Regions from separate parts of the Homo sapiens genome. Here region 1 is linked to region 2. The links come from fine-mapping of genetic effects on plasma protein levels. Region 2 holds a variant in brackets. A gene starts in the other region. All regions are shown on their reverse strands.

Region 1 (5,315 bases), not on the chromosome of region 2:
CATTTAAGTGTATTCTGAGTTAGGCATTATGACTTCTATTCATATCGCCTTTCCTCCTCATGGAATGAAAATTACATGCAGGAAAGATTGTAGGAGAAAAGTATATTTGTCTCTGTGTGTGTGTGCGTGTGTGTTTGTCTGTTGGGTGGTGTGATGATGTACAAGAAGTGTCCTTGTTTTAGAAAAATATAATAATAGAATGTTTAAGTATGATAGAAATTATGTTTTTAGCTTGCTATAAAATGATTCAGAAAATACTAATTATATGTATATATAAAATGTATATATATGCACACACAGGTAACACATATACATATCTATATTTACATCTGTTTGCTTATTGGGAGGATAGATACATAGATGAAACACACACATGCGGTAGATGCTAACAATTGGGGAAAGAGGAGGAGGTGGAGATAGCAGTTCTTTGAACTATATCTGCAACTTTTATGTAAATTTGAAAGTATTTCAAGGTAAATTTTTTTAAAATATAAAAAGTTGCTTTTGAACAAAAAGATTATTTGAGATGTTCAAGCAGACACTGGGTAACTGTCTCACGGGGATATTGCAAAGACTTCTTGCACTGGGTAGGAGGTTTGACTGGGTAATCCATCATTTCAAACTCAGAGCACATGATTTATGAATCATAGGTTGGTGATAGTACAATGGAGTGAAATCTGAGCCACATGCCCAGAAATTTAATGGAATGTTAAGATGTTATAAAAGTAGAATGCGGGTACCAAATAATTTGCAAAGGCTCTTTTCCCCACTGATCCGTCCATCCCTCATGTAAGTATTGAAGGCATGTATAAGAGATTATTTTAGGTTCCGGGTATTCACATATAAATAGAATGCACCTTTTCTACCCTCAGCGTTCTGAAGTGAAGCTATATAAAATGTAGTGGTTTATTAAGCCAATACTAAATGAGCCCACTGGCATAAGTTGGAAATTCATAATCTGGCATATTTTTTCCAGTCTAATTTGGGAATTCTTTTGCTAGATATACTTTACTGTTTACCCTTGAAGATAACTTTGTTTGATGTGATAGCCTGAGATAGTCTGGTTCATACAGACAGACCTTCTCTCTATAGCCTACTACATGTGCATGGTATTATGCTGTAACTCTAATTCCATCCTTAATTAACATCAGGGCTTCTTCTGTAAAAGGAATTAAGAAGAGCTGTCTCATAAATATATTCAATGAGAAGAGAACTTTTAAAGGTATGAGACTTTCAAGGTAACTGTTTCTAATAATTTGGAGAAAAAACACAAAAAGAAGAAAAAAGACAATGTCTTTTTTTCTGTGTCTTACTCTTCTTTTGTAACTCACAGCATCTAATTTTCTAGGCAGGTAGCAGGATCTCACCTGTCAACTCTTAACAGAACTGAAGGCATTATAAACTGTTTCTGAAATTAACATTCAGATTCAATTACTTATGATCCATTTTTCTGTGGTAAAAGGAATTGGTCACATTAAAATAGGATATGTCATAATTTTCAATAGGCTACCTTGTTTGTATTACTTATATTTACACTAAATATAATTTAACATTTTCTTTTGTCAGAACATTTTCCTATTATCACTCAAAATTTAGGAACAATCTTACCAAAAAAAATTGCCTGAAATGAGTCCATGCTTAAATGGAAGAATTAACTTTTAAGTTCTTTACTGATGAGGGCATTTGCTTATACATTTTTAAAGTTTGGAATTAAGTGCACTTTTACTTGAAAAAACTATAAAAGGATAAGAAAATTGATGAGATGATAACTGTAACCCTTTGCTGTGGTTTTTATATATATTCCTAGGCTTATACTTTACAGTCGGACAGTAATGGCGATCAACCTTCTACCAAGACACGTTGGCTCTCATTAATGAATAATTCTCCCCCCACCCCGATTTTCTAGGAGCAAAATAGAATTGTAGAAAAAAGCGGTTTGGGAAAATATTTTAAAAATTTGTGGTAATATTTTATGGACAATTGTATTGTCGTCATTGTCTATTAAAAGAGGTTAAACCAGGGAGAATAAATTTATGGCTATTGCTTTTTACTCCTCAAGAGACAGGAAAATGAACATTCTGCCTGAACTGCTCTAATATAAGGTCCTTACAGAACAATTTCATTAAATGGTCTTAGTAGGACAGAGTGACGGTCTCTGCCATTGGTAGGAAAAGTAATGGACTATTTCTGGATAAATCACATTGTGATCTGAGCAGTGTACAGACATAATGATGTGGTAGCCAAGGGTACTGGTGATATATGTTTGCTGGTGTCAGTAAATGGGTAGAAAAGCATTGATTGAATGATAGTCTTGACATTCAGACTTAATATTTATGTATTGCAGTGTGAAGCAAGTAGAATGATAGTATTCTTGTATTGCACAACTCTTTTTGGAAAATTATCTCTGTGTTAAGTTAAAGCTACACTAGAGTGTGCTTATGATAGAGTAGGTAATATTAGAATAAAACTCAAGATCTAGAAAACATTTGGAGATGCCTATATGGGAAATCAAAAAATTTTAGTTAATTAGTAGATTATGGCCTATAATGATCTATTCTCAGGCCTATTTTTAAGTTATAGCCATGTTAGGACATGGAAAGATGTTAACAGGGTCCTCTGACAAGTTTTTAAAAATGAATTCCATTTAAAGCTATCTATATTCACTTTATTTCTTTTACATGAGTTTATCAGAAATAGTATTAAATTTGGGGATCAACAGATATTTAATTAAAAGTGAACTAAATTTTTTTTCTCTTCTCAAAGGCTATAGATAAATAATACAATGTGCTTAATATCTGATTGCCATTGAGGTGATTGATTTGAACTACAAAAATGAGATGAAACCCATTAAATTATGCAATTTTTTATTAATGACCTTTTTGCAAAGAAAATCATGTAGAGTTTCAAAAGCACATAAAGGTAACAGCAATTTTTATCATCCAATTACCTATGGCTAATAGTATTGTCCTGATATATTTTGGCAAATCCATTATCTTTTTTGCTGGCCTTTCTGCTCAGAATAAAGAACATATTTCTTCAATATCCACTCTTTTTCTTAAGGATTCAAATGGACCTTATATCCACAGGAAACTCCTCTGACTATTGTATAATTTGATGAATGTTGAGAACTCTGTCAATGCAGCAGTGATTTGTCTCTGTATTCTGGACTTGATTTAGCTTTATTCTTTTTCTCATAGGCATTCTGAAATATTTATGACAAAGTGCATTGGTAATCTGATGTAGGAGTCCTGTGAGAAACAAAAAGAACTAATTACTAGCAAATTTACAACCAGTAGCGCATCCTTTCAAATTCTGTGCAACTTTTAAAAGAAGCAAAATAATGGATAAAATAATAATATAAATTTAATACTTTTAAAAAATTCTATAATTGTTTTTTTCTCAATTCTTGCACATTTCATCAGTTGATCATTAACCCGATTGTGTTAGTTCTTAATACAAATGTAGTGAACACCTGCTTTTGTTCTAGAGGAATTAATCAAGCAATGGTCAAGATAAATGGAGTTGGCCTTGATCGCTCAGGTGTTTATGTACAAGAGTTTTCCAGCAAGCGTATTTTAGTTGTAACATTCCAGTGAATAATCAGAAGTCAGTTTGGGGTAAGTACCTTAGAAATAAATAGCTTTTGAATAAGTATGTATGCAATAACATTGCCTATGAATGTTTAGTAGAGTATGGAATGGCATTTCAATTTACTTTGGTGTAAAAATCATTTGAATTTATTTAATTAACATATCGCTTTTATTCTCCTTAAATGATTTCACCACAAATCAGAAGATCCAGTTCTTATAGGACTATTCATCAGGTTGTTTAGTTCAGCATTACTTTGTGCTTTCTGATAAGATATGATCCAAAACCTGATGAGGTAAGTGAGTTTTTAAAACCAATATTTGTCTGAGGTTATAATTTATTAAGTGCTTAGAAATTTTCTAGAAAAAATGGATGTGGATGCTCAAATAATATAAATTTAATTATTAAGATTATTAATAATAATGAGAAGGAAACTCTAATACTGAGATTCTACCACAAAGAAAAAAATTACATTTTTAATAATACTGTTCATTATTCCAATATAAACCAAATACATAAAGCTATATCTAATGTATTTCCAGTTGATAACTTAAAGGTACTAATAACATTTTGACTACGTATCTACAAACACATATTTTGGTCAGAAGTCTTCTGAGAAATTGAATATATTAGAAGATAATGATACACAGACATTTATTTTGCATGTAAAACTTCTCTTACTCACTGGTTTTTAACTATTGTTGCACTCTCATTTATAAGCTCATATGCTAAATTAATCCCTAATGAAACATTTGCTTGATATTAATAGCATATAGGTCTATATCTAAAGTTTACCAACACATTTTCTAACAATTGCTTTGGATTGTTTTTTGAGGCTTTTGTCTTTTGCAAATATATATCTAAACAAATACAGTTTAACAAAATACATTGAAGGATAAATAATGACTCCATAGTTTAATTTGGAACAATATTTGACTATTAGTAATCTTTATATATAAATATAGTTGTTCTTAGGGACTCCTACCATTTATGGTACCCTTAATGATCTGCAAAACACTCTAGAAATGTAAGTCTCTACTTAAGGCTGACAACAGACTATTCTAAAGGCTTTCATCTTTACCCCTAATTAAGGGTTACTTCCTAGTAACTTACTGATGGATAAGTTTTTAAGGATTACTAACATGTATTATTTATAAGGTAAAATTATTGTTACTAAAATTTATGAGGCCTTGGAGTCAACATTCTACCAAATATGTGGTAATATTGCAAAACTAATTCTGCTTGAGATATAATCAAATGGTTGAATTTCCTGCAATTTTAGTGGAGAGCACTTTAATAGGGTATTATTAGTCTTGTGAATTGTTTATGGTTTTTAATTGCTGCTACTCTTACATTTGTTAGTATTTCTGTCAATTCTTTGATATTATATTTCATTTTATTTATATTTTTTCTTTTATAATTTCAAGTTTTATTACAGATTAATGTACATGTGCAGGTTTGCTACATGGGTATATGGCCTGACACTAAGGTTTGGGGTATAAATGATCTCATCACCCAGGTAGTGAGCATAGTACTTTATTGTATCATTTATATTTGATTGCCATTTTGTTTCAAACTTTGCAGGTTTTCTGCATTGTATTTGTCTTCTTTTGGAAAAGCAGGAAGAGGGCTTTGGGTTATTTTGTCCTAAGAAATAAAGCGTGAGGAAAATTGTAAAAAGTTAGCCAGATTACTCAGTTGCTTTAGAATACATTAATTTTCTAATA
Region 2 (5,380 bases):
AACCACCCAGGGAAGGAGGCCCAGGCAGTGCTGTCCTCAGCCCAGAGCCAACCTCGCTGGGCAGCCACTCGGCCTCCCAGATTCAGAACTGGGGAGAAAACAAAACCCATGGATGGAGATTTGACAAAAGCCCTGGGGGCTCCGCATTGTTTCTGACCAAATTTCCCTGCCCCTGCCCCAGGGGCTGTGAGAACCCCACTTTGATTTCTCCTGGGCAGAGACCCCTTGGAGACAGGGTGGGTATGGCCCGGGACGGCCAGTCTAGCCTGCTTCTCACTTCACCTAGGAACGGGTCTTTCTCAAGGTTCCCTTTCATTCACATTTACTGTTTTCAAAGCTAAGCAACAGCCTTCATGCCTCAGAGAAGGTCTTAGTTCTTAGTTGGTGCCAGTGTGACCTTAACGCCACAGACCTTGCTGGGGTGAGAGGTGGGTTCTTCCAGCTGCCTCCAGGCTCCAGGTGGGAGTCGAGGGAGGCGATGGAAGGCCTGAGGTGGGAAGGACGGACCTTGTTGGAATGTACGCCGTCCCTCCGCACATGAAACTCTGGCTTTTCTCTGGTGTGAGGTTGGACGCTGGCAGTAAGGGTGGGGGGACTCAGGCAGAAAACCACTTCCTCTGTGTGCAAACAGAGAACTCTGCACCCTCCCAGATATACCTGCCCCAGGTGAGACAGGGAGCCACACACTTGAAGACATGTCCCCTGAGACAGCCACTGGGCTGCAAGCATGCACACACACGTGCACACACACCAGGTCATGCGCACATTCATGTGCACACGTCACATGCACACACCAACACACGAACACACAGAGTCGGCTTCAACAAGCCACAGACTTGGCACTAAGCTGGTGACCAGCTCGGGGCAGCCACCCCCTACCCATGCAGTGGGTGCTGAATGTCTCTCTCTGACCATAACTGGCTTCCACACAGCAATAGAGGACTCATGGATAATTCTGACTTTCTTATTTAAATGTTTTTTTTTTTTCACCCTGCTTGTTTTACAAAAAAAGTATGGCATTATCGTGATTGGAAAATAAATCAATATTTCTTTTAAAAGACTCGGGATTCCATGAGGTTTTGTCTTGACCGAGCTCATGCTTCTCGGCTGACGTCATGGGGAATGGTGTGGACCCACATTGGTGGTGGGTGCCCGGGGGGGGTGGGAGGAGGGGCCGCCTGTCCACTCCACACTGGCTCAGGGATATGCTGGCCCAGGAGGCCACTTCCCTGTCCCCACCCCCCCGCAGGCTCTGGTCCTCAGGCAATGGGGAAAGGGGCAGGAGGCGGTGGAGGCCCCTTTGTCCTGCCTTCCTTCCTCCACCATCCCCTTCAGCTCCACTCCCCCGACCCTCTGCCCTCCTGCAGCACAGACTCTCCCTGACGGCTGCCCGTCCTCAGCCTGTGGCACAGGAGTCTGGAGAGGGGCCGGCACCTTCCTCAGAGCCTCTTGCTCAAGTCTTTCCTTTTGTCATCCACAGAGAGCCCAGTCACAAGGGGTCTCCGGCCGAGGCAGCTCAGAAGGAAGCCAGCCTGGTGGCAGGGGCAGGCGTGCAGGGCGTCCCAGACTGACGCCGCCGGGCAGGGCAGCTCTGCGGCCAGTGTGGCCACTTGGTCCCTCGCCCGGAGCGGCTGACACTGCTCAGCACAGCTGCCCCGAGGCACCGCGAGGGCCCGCCCTTCCTCTCTGCGTTTCAGATCTGAGGGGAGAACATCTACCCTGCCCCGCTGCAGAGGCGGCCTGACCACAGGCTGTGCCGGACCCAGGGATGCCTCCTGCTCCAGCTTCTGCAGGGCTTCTGCTGAGCCGAGGGCCTGCGCCTGGGCAGGAGAGGCCGCCGGTCTTTCCAGGCATGGTGAGCGACGCTTCGAGGCTCCTGATGACCAACTGCATCCCCGGACTCGGGGCCACAGCTGCCCACGTGGCTATTGGTGGCAGCTTCTGCATCCACCTCCTTCCTTTGCAAAGTTGACATGGAGAGAAACTGGAGCCAGCCCAGCTGCCCCTGCCCCAAAGGTGGACAGGGCTGACGATGACAGACACGGAGCACACGGCCAGCGCCGCGCTCGGCACCGTGTGGCTCCACGGATCTCCAGGGCCGGCCGGAGGGAAGCGTGGGAGGATGGGAGAGGCCACGGCTCGCTGAGTGTCTGCAGGAGCTGGGCCACGTTGAGAGGACGCAGGGACGCTTTGTGCTTTGTTCCGCTGCCCCGTCCCCTCTGACGTTCCCTGTGGTCAGAGCAGCAGAGGTTTTCTGAGTTTGGACACGTCTGCCAGAGAGGCCAGCAGTCACACTGGAAAAGTTCTCGGGTGGCCAGTTTTCTAAGGGTCCTCAGATCACAATACCCTAGCCGAACCAGACCACAGGCTCCAGAGAGGGCGGCCTTGTGGCTGCCGGGTGTCCTGGCTGACTGCAGGCCCCGCCGGGCAGCAGGGTGCCGGGTGCGGCTGAGGTTCCAGGGCCTGTTTCATGCCCAGCACAGGGATGTTCCATTTGCTAGTGACTGCGCTTTAGGTGGGTGCTTAGAAGAGGGGGTTGCCGATGTGAGCAAATGTGCTGCTGCTGAAATATCCTGCATGAATGTGAACTCCACACAGGCCCCTCCCACACTCTGCAGGCTGCCCCTGGGGTCCTGCCTGTGCAGTGGGGTTCATTCAGCTCCCTGTTTGCCATCCAGACAGTATTAGGCCTAGGTGTGGCTGCAAGGGCGCAGCCAGGCTGTCCCTAGGAAAGACGCCCCTTTATCCACACCATGTGGGAGATGGCCCATGGGGAGGATTTGGGATGCTGGAGGAGATGCAGCATGGCCTTGAGGGGGTCTTCTCTGCCCCAGGCAGGGTGGGAGGCTGGAAAACCAGGCGAGGACGGTAAGGCCAGGCTATGATAGGGCTTTAGGGACCTGGGTGGGGTTGGGGAAATGGCCATGAGAATGAGAAGAAGCCTTCACACTGTCTCAGACTTGAATTAGGAATGACCCCAGACACAGTTCTTGGTTACAAGCCCCTGCCCTGCCCTCCCTCCTTTTCAGATGAGAGGGTCCCATGGCCTGCTAGCAATGATCGCTGACCTAGAGCTCCCGGATGCACGGACTTCACGGTGTTGGAAAAGTGCGTGTGCTCATGTGCATGAGTGTATGGGTCTGTGTTCCTGTTTGTGCCTGGGTGTGTTTACACAGTGGTTATGCACATGTGCCTGTGCACGTGTGTGCATGTGCATATGCTCGTGTTCACAACTGTGCGTTTGTGTGTGCATATGTGTGCGTGTGTGTGCGCGTGTGTGC[A/G]TGTGTGTGCGTGTGCGTGTGTGCGCGCGTGTGTGTGTGCATGTGGGTGAACAAGGGCTACTTCCCCTGCTCCGGGAGCTCTGTGGATTCATCTGGGGTCAATGCCTCGTTGTGCCCAGTCCCCGACCTTTGAGACATTTTCACTGACCCTGTCCCTGGACAACGTCCCAGGGGCTTCAGCGGATTCACAACATAAACCCATTTTTCCTCCCAGAAAAGGAGAGGGTCGGGGCCAGCCTGGGGCTTTCCTGTACTGGGATCCTGTCTTCACAGAGGCACCCAGAGACCCTGTGGTGAGGAGAGGCCTGAGCAAGTGCGCCCCATGGCAGGGTAGGGCCCTGGTGGCCTGGGCTTGGGGGTTCCCTGCAGCCTTCCCGGCTGACGTGCCTCCTGGCCTCTGAGGTGGGCATGGTGGATGCCAGTGCGCCACAGGGAGAGTGAAGCGTGTGACAGACGATGCCATCCCCGGGTGGCGCAGCAGCCAGGACTCGACTGTTTGCAAGATCCAGCCGTGCACAGAGAGGCATGGGGCCGGCCACGTCCACTAGTCTCACTCAGCCCTGAGCACAGGCCCAGCCTCTCCCGAAGCCTCCTCCTGGCCTGGCTCTTGTCTGTCTGCTGGTCATTGTGCAGAGACCACAGGCAGCAGGTGACGAATGGCTGGTGTCAAGTCCTGTCATGCCAACGGGGTCCTGGGGGAAATGCAAGAGGCTCTGAAACCAGCTTTATTACCAACCTGTGGCCACCGAGATGATCAATCAAACGGATTGGTGATGGCAAACACCACGGGGACGAGAGGCAGACGCTGCCCGGGGTCGTGATGGGGGATGGGGAGAAGATGGCGGAGGAAGTGCTGAACTTGACCAAGCCCAGCCCCCTTTAGGGCTCGCTCTCTTTCCATCACTAGGTTGGCCTCAGGGTCCAGGCCGAGGCGGCCCAGGCAACAGGAGATGTCAGACGGGGCAAAGGGGTGATTTACAAGGCGGCTGGCGCTGTTCTCCAGGGAGAAAGGGGAAACCGTGAGGAAACAGGCACCCCTCGCTGGCTCTGTTCACGGCACCCCTCGCTGGCTCTGTTCACGGCACCTCGAGCTGGCTGGGGCCGACGAGCTGAACATGCTGCCAAGGCCCTGCAGCTTCCCTGGGATGTGAACCCTGGGCTTCCTCTAGGCCATGGGCTGGGACAGCTCGGGGTCAGACACCGGCGGAGTTAGGGCCGTGGGGCCTTCCTGCGGGCGGGTCCGGGTCGCTGGCCAGTCTTCATGCAGCTGACTTCATGTAGGTATGAGAGGCTCCCACAGCAGAGGCAGCTCAGGGCCGGGCACGAGCAGAGTCCACGCTCCCCTCCTGAGCTCCCAGAGGTTCAGGGGTGCTTTCCATCCTGGGATGGACCCACAGAGCCCCTCAAGAGGCCTGGTCGCTGCTGGAGTCTGCGGTGCTGAGACCAGGACTCCCACCGCGGGCCCAATGGCAGGCCTGGCGAGGATGGCGGGGGCCGGGGGGCTGCCCAGGGCAGGATGAATCAGACCTCTCTTGGGAAGTGACTCCCGCACAAGGACATTTTAGTCAGACATAATTGCAAGGAAAAATAAACCTGCCTTAACAGAAAACAGCTTTCCAGTTGGTTTCTCCCCCCTTGAAGCCCTTTCAACTCCAGGTTTTGGCAAGTCCTGGCTGTGGGTAATTGTCAACACGACGTGGTGTCCGGAGACCAAAGCCGGCAGAGCGGAAATGGCACCCACGGCGTGAGAGAGACCGGGGAGGCCGCAGCAGGCACGCGTGTGCTGGAGTGCACAGACCCACAGGGCGCAGCTGGGTCACAGAGAAAGGGAAACATGGTCTTGGCCGCAATGTGAATGGCTTGGGAGGGCATCTTCAGACGCTGGCCCCACGAGAAGAGACTAGGGCCTGGCTGGGTGCCACCCACTTCCACGCTGGATGTGCACGGCTCTCCCCAGTTTGGAATGACTCCCCTCCCGCCCCCCTGGCTCTCACTGGTGGTTCTCACGTCACCCTCAGCAAAAGGTCACCTAAAGTCCAGGAGGAAGGTCCCTTTGAGCCCTGCCCGGTCTCTCCTGGAGGGGACCGGATGGAGTTCTT

Direction of the effects. Alleles are on the strand shown, and positions count from the first base shown. The strength of an association depends on the size of the effect and on how common the allele is.
As copies of A replace G in region 2, the plasma level of the protein whose gene starts at base 3,578 in region 1 goes up (weak association).

The links. A credible set is the group of variants that fine-mapping cannot tell apart. PIP is the chance, under the fine-mapping model, that this variant and not a neighbour inherited with it causes the effect. The UK Biobank Pharma Proteomics Project read protein levels with antibody pairs (Olink). The fine-mapping took linkage between variants from a reference panel, not from the people measured, so its PIPs are less certain.
Region 1: it holds the start of SERPINI2, and the variant in region 2 is the best candidate, but not a certain one, in a credible set for the plasma level of the SERPINI2 protein (UK Biobank, PIP 0.70).

The regions. Positions count from the first base shown.
Region 1 is chr3:167,472,305-167,477,619 of GRCh38, reverse strand. It overlaps SERPINI2 (serpin family I member 2), which reads left to right and starts at 3,578. Exons shown (of 9, transcript NM_006217.6): 1 at 3,578-3,617. LOC105374197 (a long non-coding RNA gene) reads right to left here. Exons shown (of 3, transcript XR_924683.3): 3 at 3,160-3,248.
Region 2 is chr1:3,275,658-3,281,037 of GRCh38, reverse strand. All of the region lies in intron 3 of PRDM16 (PR/SET domain 16), which reads right to left. LOC124903828 (collagen alpha-5(IV) chain-like) reads right to left here. Exons shown (of 2, transcript XM_047436627.1): 1 at 1-5,380. Among named protein-coding and RNA genes, the nearest start is that of MIR4251, 150 kb to the right of the region's middle. RefSeq lists an enhancer at 4,585-5,380. The variant A/G (reference allele first, on the strand shown) is at 3,282.